Linked DNA regions of Homo sapiens. The protein of the gene in region 3 purifies or fractionates together with the protein of the main gene of each other region. This does not show direct contact. Each region holds a gene or a part of one and is shown on either strand. Other genes may lie near its edges.

What was found.
Region 1: the proteins of MLKL (region 3) and PARP16 purify together in Homo sapiens (affinity purification with mass spectrometry; one large-scale study listed by BioGRID and IntAct). This does not show direct contact.
Region 2: the proteins of MLKL (region 3) and SLC30A6 purify together in Homo sapiens (affinity purification with mass spectrometry, with the first as the bait; one large-scale study listed by BioGRID). This does not show direct contact.
Region 4: the proteins of MLKL (region 3) and LRCH3 purify together in Homo sapiens (affinity purification with mass spectrometry; one large-scale study listed by BioGRID and IntAct). This does not show direct contact.

What each region holds. Positions count from the first base shown.
Region 1 is NC_000015.10:65,280,384-65,283,883, forward strand, and holds part of PARP16 (protein mono-ADP-ribosyltransferase PARP16), read right to left. Parts: intron 1-3,500. UniProt on the Homo sapiens protein: Intracellular mono-ADP-ribosyltransferase that plays a role in different processes, such as protein translation and unfolded protein response (UPR), through the mono-ADP-ribosylation of proteins involved in those processes.
Region 2 is NC_000002.12:32,221,364-32,224,863, reverse strand, and holds the end of SLC30A6 (zinc transporter 6), read right to left. Parts: 3' UTR 485-3,500; downstream 1-484. Other genes in the region: NLRC4 (NLR family CARD domain-containing protein 4), read left to right, coding at 99-391. UniProt on the Homo sapiens protein: Has probably no intrinsic transporter activity but together with SLC30A5 forms a functional zinc ion:proton antiporter heterodimer, mediating zinc entry into the lumen of organelles along the secretory pathway.
Region 3 is NC_000016.10:74,690,863-74,694,362, forward strand, and holds part of MLKL (mixed lineage kinase domain-like protein), read right to left. Parts: intron 1,555-3,500; coding exon 1,480-1,554; intron 602-1,479; coding exon 415-601; intron 1-414. UniProt on the Homo sapiens protein: Pseudokinase that plays a key role in TNF-induced necroptosis, a programmed cell death process. Does not have protein kinase activity.
Region 4 is NC_000003.12:197,829,254-197,832,753, reverse strand, and holds part of LRCH3 (DISP complex protein LRCH3), read right to left. Parts: intron 3,191-3,500; coding exon 3,081-3,190; intron 1,990-3,080; exon of another isoform or gene 1,985-1,989; coding exon 1,891-1,984; exon of another isoform or gene 1,857-1,890; intron 1,718-1,856; exon of another isoform or gene 1,531-1,717; intron 1,480-1,530; exon of another isoform or gene 1,400-1,479; intron 558-1,399; coding exon 437-557; intron 1-436. UniProt on the Homo sapiens protein: As part of the DISP complex, may regulate the association of septins with actin and thereby regulate the actin cytoskeleton.

The DNA of each region.
Region 1 (3,500 bases), on a different chromosome or scaffold from region 3:
CCAAGATCACGCCACTGCACTCCAAACTGGGCAACAGAGCAAGAACTCGTCTCAAAAAAAAAAAAAAAAAAAATTAGCCATGGACCAGCAATTTCACCTCTCAGAATGTATCCAAGAAGACAACAACAGATATAAACAATGATTAATGTAGAAGGATGTTTATCAAAGTATTATTTATAAAAGCAAAATTTTAAAATTATAAAGAAACCCAAAAGAAGGACTCCTAACTGCTAGGGAGTGGAGGCACAGAATAAGGTGGAAATTTCACGTGTATCTTAAAGGATGAGAGGGAGTTTGCTTCAACAAAGATGGAAATGGCATCAGGAGGGCTCAGGACAGAGAGGAGCTTATATGCGCTTTAACCCAGACACTGGGGAGTCATGGTGTCTAGACAGTGCAAGCCAGAAACCAGAAAGAGGGAGGAAAAAAAAGAGAAAGACTCCTTACTCCTCCAGGACCAGGAGGCCCAATTAGAGCAGTTTGGCACCCCAAATGAGAACAGGGTAAGCTTCATGCAGTGCTTTTCAGACTTCACTATGTGTACAAATTGCCCAGATTTGTTAAAATGCAGATCCTGACTGGATAGGTCTGAGGCAGGACCTGCTTTTCTAATGAGCACCCAGGTGAGGCTCATGTTGCTGGTCCTCAACCACACTAAGCAGCGAGGGCCTGGAGCTAACACAAAGAAGCCATTCCCACACACTTCCCACCCCCAGAAAGGGTCTACAGGCTAATGGAGAACCAGAACATGCTATTTCGGGAGGGAAAACAGAACAAAAAACTGTACAGCTGCGACTGTGTCAAGTGACAAACCTGAAGTTCGGAGGCCAATGGTTAAGGGGTACAGGGAATCCCAAGAATGTTACAGGTTCTCTCATCCAACCCTGGTCCCAAAAAGCAAGGTGAGAAATCCTGAGCCTGGGTATTCAGCACACGCACAATGTGATTCCTCAAACATTTGATAAGTACTTCCCAGGCCAGGCACTGGAAATACCAAGAGCTCCCAGTGTAAAATCAGAGAGCTGGCCAGGCACGGTGGCTCATGCCTGTAATCCCAGCAGTTTGGGAGGCCGAGGAGGGCGAATCACCTGAGGTCAGGAGTTCAAAACCAGCCTTGACCAACATGGTGAAACCCTATCTCTACTAAAAATACAAAAATTAGCTGGGCGTCATGGCATCTGCCTGTAATCCCAACTACTAGGGAGACTGAGGCAGGAGAATCGCTTGAACCCAGGAGGCAGAGGTTGCAGTGAGCCGAGACCGCGCCATTGCACTCCAGCCTGGGCAACAAGAGGGAAACTCCATCTCAAAAAAAAAAAAAAAATCAGAGAGCTTATCAGCACGAAAATGGTCTCAAAACAAGACACCTCAGGGATAATTTGGGACTTTGAGGACAGTGGTAAGATAAGGCTAGATCAGACCTAAAGCCAAGAGCTTGGTTCAGCAGTGGGGAGTTCTCAGGAAATCACCAATCAATAAAGTAATTTAAGGCACAGGTCTAATTTTTGGAAACTGCAACCCTTGTGTTATAGGTGTGTAATAACACCTCACAGTGTGGACAAAGATTTAAATGACTGAAAATGGTAAACTTTCACATTACTTCCTAGTGCTTTTAGCTGAACAAATGAAAGTGAGAGACTTTTTTTGAGACAGGGTCCCACTTTGTCACCCAGAATGGAGTGCAGTGGCACAATCACGGCCCACTACAGCCTTGACCTCCTGGTTCAGGTGAACCTCCGACCTCAGCCTCCCAAGTAGCTGGGACTACAGGCGTGCACCACCACACAGGCTAATTTTTTGTAATCTTTTTATAAAGACAGGGTTTCGCCATGTTGCCCAGGCTGCTTTCAAACTCCTGGACTCAAATGACCCGCCCCAGCCTCCCAGAGGGCTGGGATTACAGGTGTGAACCACCGTGCCCAGCCAAGAGACTTTTTAACAGCTCCATACTTTCCTTCTTCAGGTAACTACAAAATGATCTAGCCAGTCCATTCCAGACCTGATTCCCTTTTCTTTAAAAGTTAGACTTTGATTCAGATACAGATCCAGATGCCCAGTTCTCTGCATCATTTCAGTAACTCATGTGACGTGGCAAAACGAGGCCTAAAGTGTGTGTTTATCTAAGAATGTATGCATGTCCCCAGAAATGGTGCCAGGCCCCACCTGTGAGCAGTCTTGCTGCTGACGGCCATGCCTACAGACAGCCAAGAATCTATGTAGTCTGGGCTATTTTCCTCAACAATGGTGCCCTATAAGGAATATGGCAACAGAAATGGATGGTAAGAATGCGTGTTTCTCCAGTAGCCCTCAAGAGAAAGGGTAACTATCTGGGACTGGTACAATAAACCCCATGGGAGGGGCAGTCTGTCTCTATAGAGGAGGTGGCTTTTTGGGGCAACCTACGTTGCTGATGCTCTCTTAAGGGATTACAAGTGGGGCAAGGGAGAAGGGGGAGGATGGGCCCCAAACAGAGCAATTGATACCTTTGCAGAGGGGTGAGGGATAGAGTGAGATCTATCAGGGGCACTTTTACTTTACTGGTATCATTTGAATTTTTTATAATGAGAATATATTCAAACATTACCTGCATAATTAAAAATAAATTTTAAAAAGCATGATCAAAACAACTCCACAAGCCCCTTTGCATGTATCCCATATTCACCAAACAAACCTGATTGCATTCGCCAAGACCTTCCAGCAGAAAGAAAATAAGTTCCAGATTCTAGTCCACTTAGAGATATGTTTCTTGGTAAAAATTAAAGCTGCACTGTGGCCAAGTGCAGTGGCTCAAGCCTGTAATCCCAGCACTTTGGAAGGCTGAGGTGGGAGAATTGCTTGCGCCCAGGAGTTCAAGACCAGTCTGGACAACGTTGTGAGACCCCATCTCAATTTTTTTTTTTAAAAAAAGCTGCATTGTGAGTTTGATCCCTCTGACCCCAAACACTCCTCCCAAACAGGTCCCTCTCTCACCCTGCCACCACAGGTGTCTTTCTGGATCTCACCTCTATACCCTCCCCTGCCCAAGGATAAAAATCTCCACAACTTAGCAGGGCATGTGTAGCCTTGCATGCTCCATAGGCTGGCCTCATCTCTTCCTGTTCCCCACAACAGTCACACTAAATCACAGTCTTGTCCTTCTCTGTAAGCTCACACCTCCTGGCTGACCATCCTGCTACTCCTCCTGGAATACTCTTTCCCTCTTCTCTGCTCTTGAAGTTCTGCCTTGGGACTTGGCAAGGCATCAGCCTCCACCCCTAGATGGTGTTCCCTGAGCCTGGCCCAAAGCTGAGAGCTAGGGGGTGTCCTTGCTCTGGGCTTCCATGTTGTACGGCGCTTACCTAGTATGAGAGGTTAACACTGTTAACCTCTCCACGGGTTAATCCTGTATCCTTAGCACCTGTCCCATAGCAAACACTCCATAAGTATCTGTTGCCAAAACTGAATGAAGTTTCGTACCCAAGGTCCTGATACACCACACTCAGAAAATTGAGTATCTGAAC
Region 2 (3,500 bases), on a different chromosome or scaffold from region 3:
GAGTGAAAAAAAAGTATGTAAAATAAATGTAGAACCTATTTCTCTTTTTTTTTAAAAAAAATTTTTCTTCCAACTAATATACTTATTTCTTTACCCAGGTGCATTTTTTGGAAAGAACCCTCTGAAAAACTTCCAGCAGTTGAATTTGGCGGGAAATCGTGTGAGCAGTGATGGATGGCTTGCCTTCATGGGTGTATTTGAGAATCTTAAGCAATTAGTGTTTTTTGACTTTAGTACTAAAGAATTTCTACCTGATCCAGCATTAGTCAGAAAACTTAGCCAAGTGTTATCCAAGTTAACTTTTCTGCAAGAAGCTAGGCTTGTTGGGTGGCAATTTGATGATGATGATCTCAGTGTTATTACAGGTGCTTTTAAACTAGTAACTGCTTAAATAAAGTGTACTCGAAGCCAGTAAGTGCTCTGGGACCTCATTATTTTAAGCCTGGTAGTTAAAAAAAATCTTGCAAAAGGATGCCAAAGAAGATAAGGACGTGGAAAGAAGTTTAATTTGATGATTAAAAACATGCAACAGTTTTGTGTCTTAGCTCTCCTACTAGGATTATCGGCGCCTTGAAGGAATTCTCATTCATCTTTGTGTTACCTTTGGTCTGGGTCACACCAACTGGTATACTGAATGCATATTAACTTAGTATAGTGCCTGGCATGTAAGAGATTCTCAACAATATTCTCAATAAATATTCGCTGAATATGAGATAAATTATTAATAGCTACTGAATAAAGAAAGATTATTTAAAACCAGAGAGGAAACTCCATATATGTTCTTTAATCCAAACAGTTTAATTCAAGCAATCTGGAATATAAAAAGCACTTTCTGATATTAGAAGGAGATCAGACTCCCAAAAAAGATCAGCATTCTTTAGTCAAGCAAAACTTGGAAGTTTACAAACAGCTAAATCAGAAGCTTGAAATTCAGGTCCTCTCCAGTACCTGCTACATTATATGTAATTCCAAACATGACTTCAGAGATTAAAGAAGAAAGGGAAGATGTTTCCCATTCTTTTGTACCCTATATAAACTAAGGGTACCCTGCCCTAATCTTTTTTCCAACACTTCCCCAAATAACCCTTCCTTACAAAGAAAGAAGTCTAAGAGAACTCTCTCATCTAAATATATTTAAGTAGAGGCAAGCCTGAAAAAAACACAAAAACCTAAATGGTGTTAGGCTGTGGTTCACCTATTCTCATGGCACCTCAAATTAATGGCTTGGGTGTTGGTGTAGGTAACGCTTGGCCTGTATGTTGAGGTAGTCACTAGATAAAATTCTGGGCACAACATCCGTTTAGCAATTGGGCATACATTCTACAGATTTAGCCATAACGTTTTGAAGCTGATTATTTTACAGATCAACTAATTAATTCCTCTCCCTAACTTTACAGATGAGAAAGCTCAGATGATTTGCCCATGGGTTATAAAACTACTTCCTTACACAGTGGCAGCATCAGAACTGGAATTCAGATCTCTTGCCTCCTAGGCAGTGTTTTTCCTATTATAATATGGTGACTTCGTAAAGCAGGGTTAATTACATTCCACAAAGCTTACATCCTAATCACAAACAATGGGACAAATATTTAAATTGAACTTCTTTCTCTGTCTAGCTTCAAGTGATTCTGTGGCAAGATTTACTAGTAAGGCTGCTGCCTATAGGCCTATGCTGGGCAAGTTCCTTATTTTCATATCCAGAAGTTAGTCAGAGCTTGGCAAATAAGACTTCTCTATATAATAATGCCTGGCCCAATGTCCCCTGTAACATCTTACATGCAGGACGTAGGGCCAATTCTTTCATAACCCACAGGCAACTGTGAGTGTCCTTTCTCAAATAGTGAAGGTAGGTATTAAAGCACCTTTGGTGGGACAGATGCACAGGTGTTGCCTCTGAATTGGTGTTGAGGAAGTAGGCATAAAACCTCACACAGAACTGTGTTTGGTACCTGAACACTTTAAAATCCTATGGGGATGGGGAAGACATGCATGGGGTGGCAGCACATACCTCTTAACCATAACTCAGGACACGGCAGTTCAGATTTCATGCATGACCCTAATTCATATTTAGTTGAGATCAATGGAGGAAGAAGAATCATCCTGTAATAGTAGACCAATAACAGATACAGTAATAGTTGGAAAACATAAGATAAAGGCCAAGGAACAGGTTGCCTTATTACATTTTACGAAGTATCATTTTCCCCAGTAGTCAAGGTAGTGTAGGCTGTATTTCTTTAGCAGGTCACATGCCTGAACAGGGGTTGCAGATGCCAAAGACAATGACCAACTCCTCACTAAGAAAAAGGTATTTAGGACATGGTCACTTATTACCACAGATGACAATTCTGCTTGACAGAGATGGCTTCTTGGATGTTTTTAATCCACAGTGAAGAAAAAGGATTTCAAAGTGCTGCTCCTATTTGAAAGTGAATGAGTTGACTGAAGAAACTGTTGCAAAAGAAAAACAAAAATCTTCTCTAGATAGCTGGCTGATGGCTGGGAAAGTCATAAATCTCCAGGAGCATTGGATTCCAGGAAAGTTAAGTCCATTCTCAAAATCCCATTTTAAAACTGTTATGGAATGCATAATAAAATAAAACAATAAAAAACCCTCCTAGGTCATGTGTGACTGCTGCTTGTTATACTTTTTGGAAGTAATACTAGCCATGTTAGAAAGTCCTTAAACTCTGCATTTGGAAAACAACTAAAAAATAACATAATCTATGTAATTCTCACATTTCATCACAGTTAACAATTTCCCATTTTTGACAAAGCAAAACAAAAAGAAACTGCCCACTGCAGACCTAACAATGCTGTATTCTATAATCTAAGGTCCATTATGCTTTGGTAAAATTATATATGCTCAAATTCTTTGTGCAACTTGAAAAGACATCAAATTCCATATTATGTATGGAACTCCATGTGTTTTGGTAATATATCTGATATATTTTGTTAATAAAATAAGAAATTAAAAAGCCAATGAATGAAAATGTGTCAGGAAAGATAAATTCATTATGTCAGTATTTGATTAAATGTAACATAGAAAATTGGGATTCTTTCACTGCATATCACCAAAAGTTGGGTAGTCACTTAATCAAAATAAAACACTGAGAACCATGGACTATTTACAAATGTACTAAAATTTTTAAAGGAGAGAAACTTTAACAAAAATCTTGATAATTAAAAATTCAAATTGTGCTAGATAGAATGTATTCCAAAATTTCTGCTAAAAATTTTTGCTTTTAGTTTGTAAGACATAATTCAGGAGAACCTCAAAGAAAAATTTAGCAATTAAGTTTGGAAAAGCTATAAAAGAGACTTTTACTTTTTGAACAGACATTTTTCCCTTTCCCAAAATGTGTATTATTCAAGAAGCATATTTATAAATTTCATTAAAGAAAATATCGGCCAGGTGCGGTGGCTCACACCTAATCCCAGCACTTTGGGAGGCTAAGGTGGGTGGATCATGAGGTCAGGAGTTCAAGACCAGCCTGGCCAAC
Region 3 (3,500 bases):
ATATGGAACACGTTTCATGATGTTGAGTGAAAAAAGTGAGGAAAGGAGGCAACAGACACGTAACTCTACCAGTTGTGAACATGAAAAATGTATGCATACATTTTACAAGAACACATACAAACAAAACACACTAGAACTACTGTCTGTGGAGGGGATGAGCAACTGGGAAACAAGGTTGGAAGGGAAAGTTGTTTTTTTTTTTTAAATATATATGTGGACAAAGGAGAGAAGACCTAGAACTGAGGTGGAAAGATGTATTTAAGTCAAGACTCTGCTCCTTAACAGTGGAGAGCACATAATTTAACCCTTTAGGGCCCAGGCTTCCTCATCTAAAAATGGAGACGATATCCCTCTCTCCTTGGAGAGTTAGAGTAAGTATTGGTACACACGAGAGAACCACACAAAACAACTTACGCAATGCTGCCAGCCTGGAGTTTTTTGAATACTTTTATGGCCACTGGAGCTCTGTGGTATTCTCCTTTATAAAGTGTGCTGACTTCATTTTCCCTTAGCAGAATCCACGGGGATCCTGAAAGCTGCTCCTTCTTGATCTCCTTGATTTGCTCTTGCGGGATCTCCTGCATGCATTTTGGTGGTAAATCTGACCTCACCCCCGAGAGGAAAGAAGACAAAAGAGTCAATGAGCAGAGGAAGGGGTCCTAAGGGAGGTGGCATATTTGTGATGTGTGAGTGGGAAGCTCTACTACATGAACCAGAGCTGGTGGTGGCTGGGGCTTCTGATGGACTCAGCCCAAGGGAGCGGCTCCCGTGCCTCTGAGTGACCAGTAGAGACACAGCTGGACAGTTAACAGAATGTGTCATCCACTTCCTTTCCCTCCTCTTCAAATCCCGCCTGTCCCTCCAGCCTTAACCCTCATCCAGACTCATCTCTCTCATCCTGGAAGGATGTCTATTCCTGTTACCCAGAGCTTGGCACTTGAGCATCTGGCATCTGGCGTAGTCATTTCAGATCTAGTAGTTAGGGACATAGTTCAAGCTCAGTAACCTTGCTGTTGTGTGTTCACTGTCTGTCTTTCCTCTTTCCTCCTCCACCCCGTGAGCTCCTGGAAGGCAGTGTCCTTCTCTGCATCTTAGTTACCTCTTTGCATGGCCTCTGGCATAAACCAGATACTCACAGTTTTGTTGAATGAATGAATGAGTGGGCATTTTAAATTTGATTTGAATTTCTTCTTGGAAATTCAGCAACTGAACTGAAGCTTTGATTCTATTCATAGAGGTTTTTAAGTACTTTGACAGCTGCTAGAAGGTATCTTACTGGTCAAGAAGCTCTCTCCACATGTTATTCCATGGACAGAAGCCTGGGCTAGCCATGAATGGATCCCCAAACCTGTGGGCTGCTTCCAGCCATCCAGCACAGAAAATGGACAAATGCAGGGGTAGCGGGAGGCTGGGGTCCCAGTAAACTGATGACTTCTAGTTTGGGGGCCATCAGAAACAGCAGGGCACATGATAACTTACACTGCCTCAAAGTTTCCTTGATTTCTTTCATGTTGATTTCTAATCGTCTCAGTGAAGCTTCTATTTTTTCATTATCTGCAGGAAAAAAGGGCAGTATATGCTCAAAATAGATATTAAAATCACACGCCAATCAAAACTAAAATGCTAATTAAAACTGTTGAGATATCATTTTTTACCTATCATATTCATTATGGTAGGGATTACTACTGATCACCAATATTCAGATTTCTACTTCTGAGCACATAGGAAATGCATTAAAGCATGGCTGGGTAACTTGCTTTGGCTAAGAAATGAAGAAAAGAGATGTCTGTCACTTCCCAGAGGGAGCATTTAACTGACTCTGCATAAGGTTCCAACCTGGCTGCTTTGGAAGTGAGGAAAGTTTGCGTCAACGCAGAAGTGCTATACTATTGAAAGTATCCTGGAAGGAGGACATTCACCTTGGAGAGTCCCCTGGACTTTGCCTGAATGAGAAATAAACTTGTTTCTTTAGAACACTGAGTTGTTGTTTTTTAAACCACAGCATAATCAAATCAATCCTGATTTATATACTCAGAAACATGTTTGAAAATTTATAACACACTATTTACAGTGGTCAGCCATCCCTGTCTGCCCAGGACTGAGGAGCTCTGGGGACATGAAACCCTGACTACTAAAAGTGGGAAAGTCTCTTATGGGAAAAGTATAGAGAAGCAGATAACTCATGCATAGTTGGTAGAAGTAATATCTGTGCAACTTCTATCAAAATTTGAAATGCCTACAGTCTTTGACCTAGTGATTTTACCTAGCAATTCCACTTCTGGGAATTTCTCATAAAGATATCTTGAAATAGGCCAGGCGTGGTGGCTCATGCCTGTAATCCTAGCACTTTGGGAGGCCGAGTCAGGCAGATCACTTGAGGTCAGGAGTTTGAGACCAGCCTGGCCAAACTGGTCAGTAGAGATAGTGAAACCCCGTCTCTACTAAAAATACAAAAATTAGCCGGGTGTGGTGGCACATGCCTGTAATCCCAACTACTGGGGTGACTGAGGCACAAGAATCACTTGAACCCAGGAAGCAGAGGTTGCAGTGAGCCAAGATCGTGTCACTGCACTCCAGCAAGACTCTGTCTCAAAAAAAAAAAAAAAGAAAAGAAAAAAGAAAGAAAGAAAGAAAGAAAAGAAAAAAAAAGTTCTGGTGATGGATGGTCGCGATGGTTTCAGAACCATGTGAATATACTTGATGCCACTGAACTGGCATCTAAAAATGGTTGAAATGGTAAATTTTTTTTTTTTTTTTTTTGAGACGGAATCTCTCTGTCGCCCAGGCTGGAGTGCAGTGGAGCGATCTCAGCTCACTGCAGGCTCCGCCCCGCGGGGTTCACGCCATTCCCCCGCCTCAGCCTCCCGAGTAGCTGGGACTACAGGCGCCCACCACCTCGCCCGTCTAATTTTTTGTATTTTCAGTAGAGACGGGGTTTCACCGTGTTAGCCAGGATGGTCTCAATCTCCTGACCTCATGATCCGCCCGCCTCGGCCTCCCAAAGTGCTGGGATTACAGGCGTGAGCCACCCCGCCTGGCCGAAATGGTAAATTTTATGTTATGTATATTTTATCACAAAAAATGGGAAAAAATGATGGGTGTATGTATTGGGTTGTTTTTGAATTTGTGTGCTGCTAGTATGATCATAAAACAAAACAAAACAGTAGGGTAGATGCCAAGTAGGAAAACAAGCTATATAATTCAATGGATATTTACATGGGAGGATATTTAAGATTATTTAATGAGAAAAGAAGAAATAGAACAATGTGCTTGGCATGATGCTGACTGTGTGACAACAACAATAAAATATATATACTTAAATCTCCAGAAGGGTATTCAAGAAACTGGTAGATTGTGTGATTGTATCTCAGATTTTGATAAAGGTTGCACAAATATCCTACCAACAATGGATGAGATTATCATTTTGTCTATATGGTTTCCATCAGACTTCCCCAGTTTTAGTACTGAAGGTCTCATGTCCTCAGAAAGGGAAACAGGGG
Region 4 (3,500 bases), on a different chromosome or scaffold from region 3:
GATGACTTTGAAGAGCATCTGACAATTCCAGGTGAAGAAAAGGTAAACACTGAAAAAAAAAAAAAAAAGGACTAAATTCCTAAAAGAGATCAAATAATGACCACAGCAAGAATCTTAAAAAGGGAGAATGTTACTTCAAAAGGTCGTGATTAAATCCAGATTAACAAAGATCTGCTCCAGGTGTACTGTCTCTAATAAAGTTTCCTCCCAAAATAAAAACAAGGGAGAAATAGTGTATTTTAACTCTGACTGAAACCAGAAATCATAGTTTCATCCCAATGGAAAATAGTATTTTTCAATCATATATGAAAAGAAGTCTTTAAAAGAAGAGTGAAGAAGCTATAGATACACCAACAAAAGGAGTGGGTATGAAAAAGACAACTTTAAAAAGTTAAATGGTTGCAAACACTTTAGCTGTCACCGGAATTATGTTTACCTCCGCCGTTTGTTACTACCAAACTGCCGCGGTTCTCTTGGTACTGGCTTTCTCTTCGTAGTCTTTGTTCTTTAGTAATCTCTGCTACTCGAAGAGGCAGATCTGAAAATTCATCTGTAGGCTTAAAAAAGAAGCAGAAACATTAAAAACAATCATTTTAGAGCCTGGCAGATCATGCCTGTAATCCATGCGCTTTGGGAGACCAAAGCAGGAGGATCACTTGAGGCCAGGAGTAAATTAGCTAGATGTGCTCACACATGCCTGTAATCCTAATACTTGGGATGTTGAGGCGAGACGATCGCTTCAGCCCAGGAGTTCGAGGCTGCAATGAGACAGGATTCCACCACTGCACTCCAGCCTGTGCGACAAAGCGAGATCCTATTTCAAAAAAATAAAAATCTGGTCTGGAGTGGTGGCTGATGCCTATAATCCCAACACTTTGGGAGACCAAGATGGGAATGACAAGCCCAGGAGTTTGAGACTAGCCTGGGCAATATAGGGAGAGCATGTCTCTAAAAAAAAATTTTTTTTAATTAGCCAGGCATGGTGGCATAAGCCTGTAGTCCCAGCTACTCAGGAGGTTTAGGTGGGAGGACTGCTTGAGCCATGGTCGTGCCACTGCACTCCAGCCTGGGTGAAAGAGCAAGACTCTGTCTCAAAAAATATAAAAGATTCATGACTCCATAAATTATATATATATAGATTTAAAATATCTACATATATATCTGTATTGATACAGCCACATTTATGAACCCACCCACCAAGACATACAAACACAAGTAATTCCAAATTTCAAATGGGATGTGGTCTAAAATTAATTTGGTTTCAATTCACAGTAAAACAATGTTATAAATAGTAGGTTATCAGTCTTGCTAACAAAAGTTTACTTAATAACTTAATGCATAGCTAAAATATTACACATTAGTAATTTTTATTTATTTTTTTACTTTTTTTCTTCTGTAGACCTCTGTGGACACAGTAATTTTTAAGAGCAGAAAACATAATATCAATAATTTAAAAACGAGAAAAACGACAGAATTAGCCAGGAAGTTATTCCTCTTGAGCACATGAATACTCTTTACTAAGGTCCTTGTCTCTACCCATCAGCCGAAAGTCCTACTTGTTTTCTCACCATCTAGCACCTCTGCTCGAGATTACCCCCCACCTCAGATTGTAGGCTTCAGTTTCAACTGGCTCAGCTCCTGTTTGCCTTTCTATGATATGAAACTATTTCCATGAGGCAATGAGGAAACAGGCGGAAATCCACGTGACAGAAAGCCGGTAAGGACGCAGAATGCCAATTCTGCTGGAGAGGGTGGGAATCTTGCCTCCACCTTGACTTTTCTGTATTTTATGTAGTGAGAAACTGAATCCAGTTAAGACGCTTTTCATTTTCATCATTCTGTTTTCTCTTAATCAGGTGTTATAACACACGGAACATAAAAAACACTTACTTCATTCCCTGACCATCTCTTATCACCACTGTCCACACTATTGAAGCCTGAATCAAGGGCTCCATAAGGGCGACTTGAGTACAGTTCTTCATGGCTGCCGAAAAGAGACTCTGTTACTGCAAAGTTTGTTATTTTAACAATTAAAATTTGAAATTAAACAGATCAATTTTCTAAAAAACAAGAAATGTGGCAGTCACTTAACTATTAGAACTAAATGGGCTTTAATTTTTTAATATGAAAAATTCCAAATAGAAACAAAGCAAACAGAATAGCATGAGACCTCATGTACTCATTATTATCCAGCTTCAAAACAATCACACCTCTGCAATTCTTGTTCGTCCAATGAGGCGAGTTTACTAGGACTGTGCTTTTAAGCAAAATTTGAGAGGTTCAAGAGAAGGCCTGAGAGGTTCTCTTTTGAGTAAAGTCCATAAACATTACTTCACTTTGACTGAAACATCTATCCTGCTTGTTTAAAGGCCTAAGAATTTAATTCTTGCTACTTAAGACTGCTCCATACTCAGGAGGCTGAGGTGGGAGGAATGCTTGAGCTCAGGAGTTTGAGACCAGGCTGGGCAACATAGTAAGACCTTGTTTCAAAAAAAAGAGATTGTTCCAGATGGTTGGGACTGCCAAGCAGATGACCTTATAAGTCACAGGCTGTGTAGCTGAGGGACTCATAGATTAAAAGATCCTGAAGTGATGTTAATGGTCAACAAATCCAACTCTTGACTCCTTGTAGAAAAAATGAAACTCAAAAAGTAGGAATGACTTGCCTTCGGCTAGTTACCTCAGCAGCAGAGCTAAAGTTAGCGTTCAAGTCACTCAGACCAGTAGTTTTCAACTGGAGGGCCCCAAGGTGACATTTGGAGACTTTGCGAGGGTACTACTGGCATCTATCTAATGGGCAGACACCAAGGATGCTGGTAAATGTCTTACAATGTACAGGACAGCCCATCACAACAAAGAATTATCTGATCTAAAATGTCAACAGTGCCAAGGTTGAGAAACCCTTAGAACTAGACTTTGCCAGATCTAGGTAATCAACTTTACAATACAAGCATTCTGAGAATAACAGTGTTAAAACAGGTTATTTCCCTTTAGTCAAACATTCAGGCAAATTTAAGTATCCATTTTATTTGATTCTCTGTACAAAAAATATGATAGATAAAGGGACAGAATATACTTACCAGGAGCCAAAACCCAACGGTCTCCTATCATAATCCGGCAGATCTGGAGCAATCTTACAAGCTTGTATGTTCAGGTATTTAAATATGTGGACTTTGCCTTTTATACATATCTAAATAAAGTCACACAGATGTAGCCAAATTATTACTCATCTGAAGTATGCTCCTTTTTATCATATCAACATTTTATGTAACATACATTGGGAAAGGGAGGCATTTCTATCAAGTACATACAGTAATATTTAAAAACTAATAAATTATATTATTTGGTTAAGTGTTATTTTAGGTGTTTAACTGGTAAATATGTTTTCATTTTCTAGTCACTAATACATTTCAGTAATATATAAATAAATAACTTTTGATTATACTGTTCAAATACCAAGTAAACTTATCACACTGACTAGTTTGCATAGTCAGAGATTT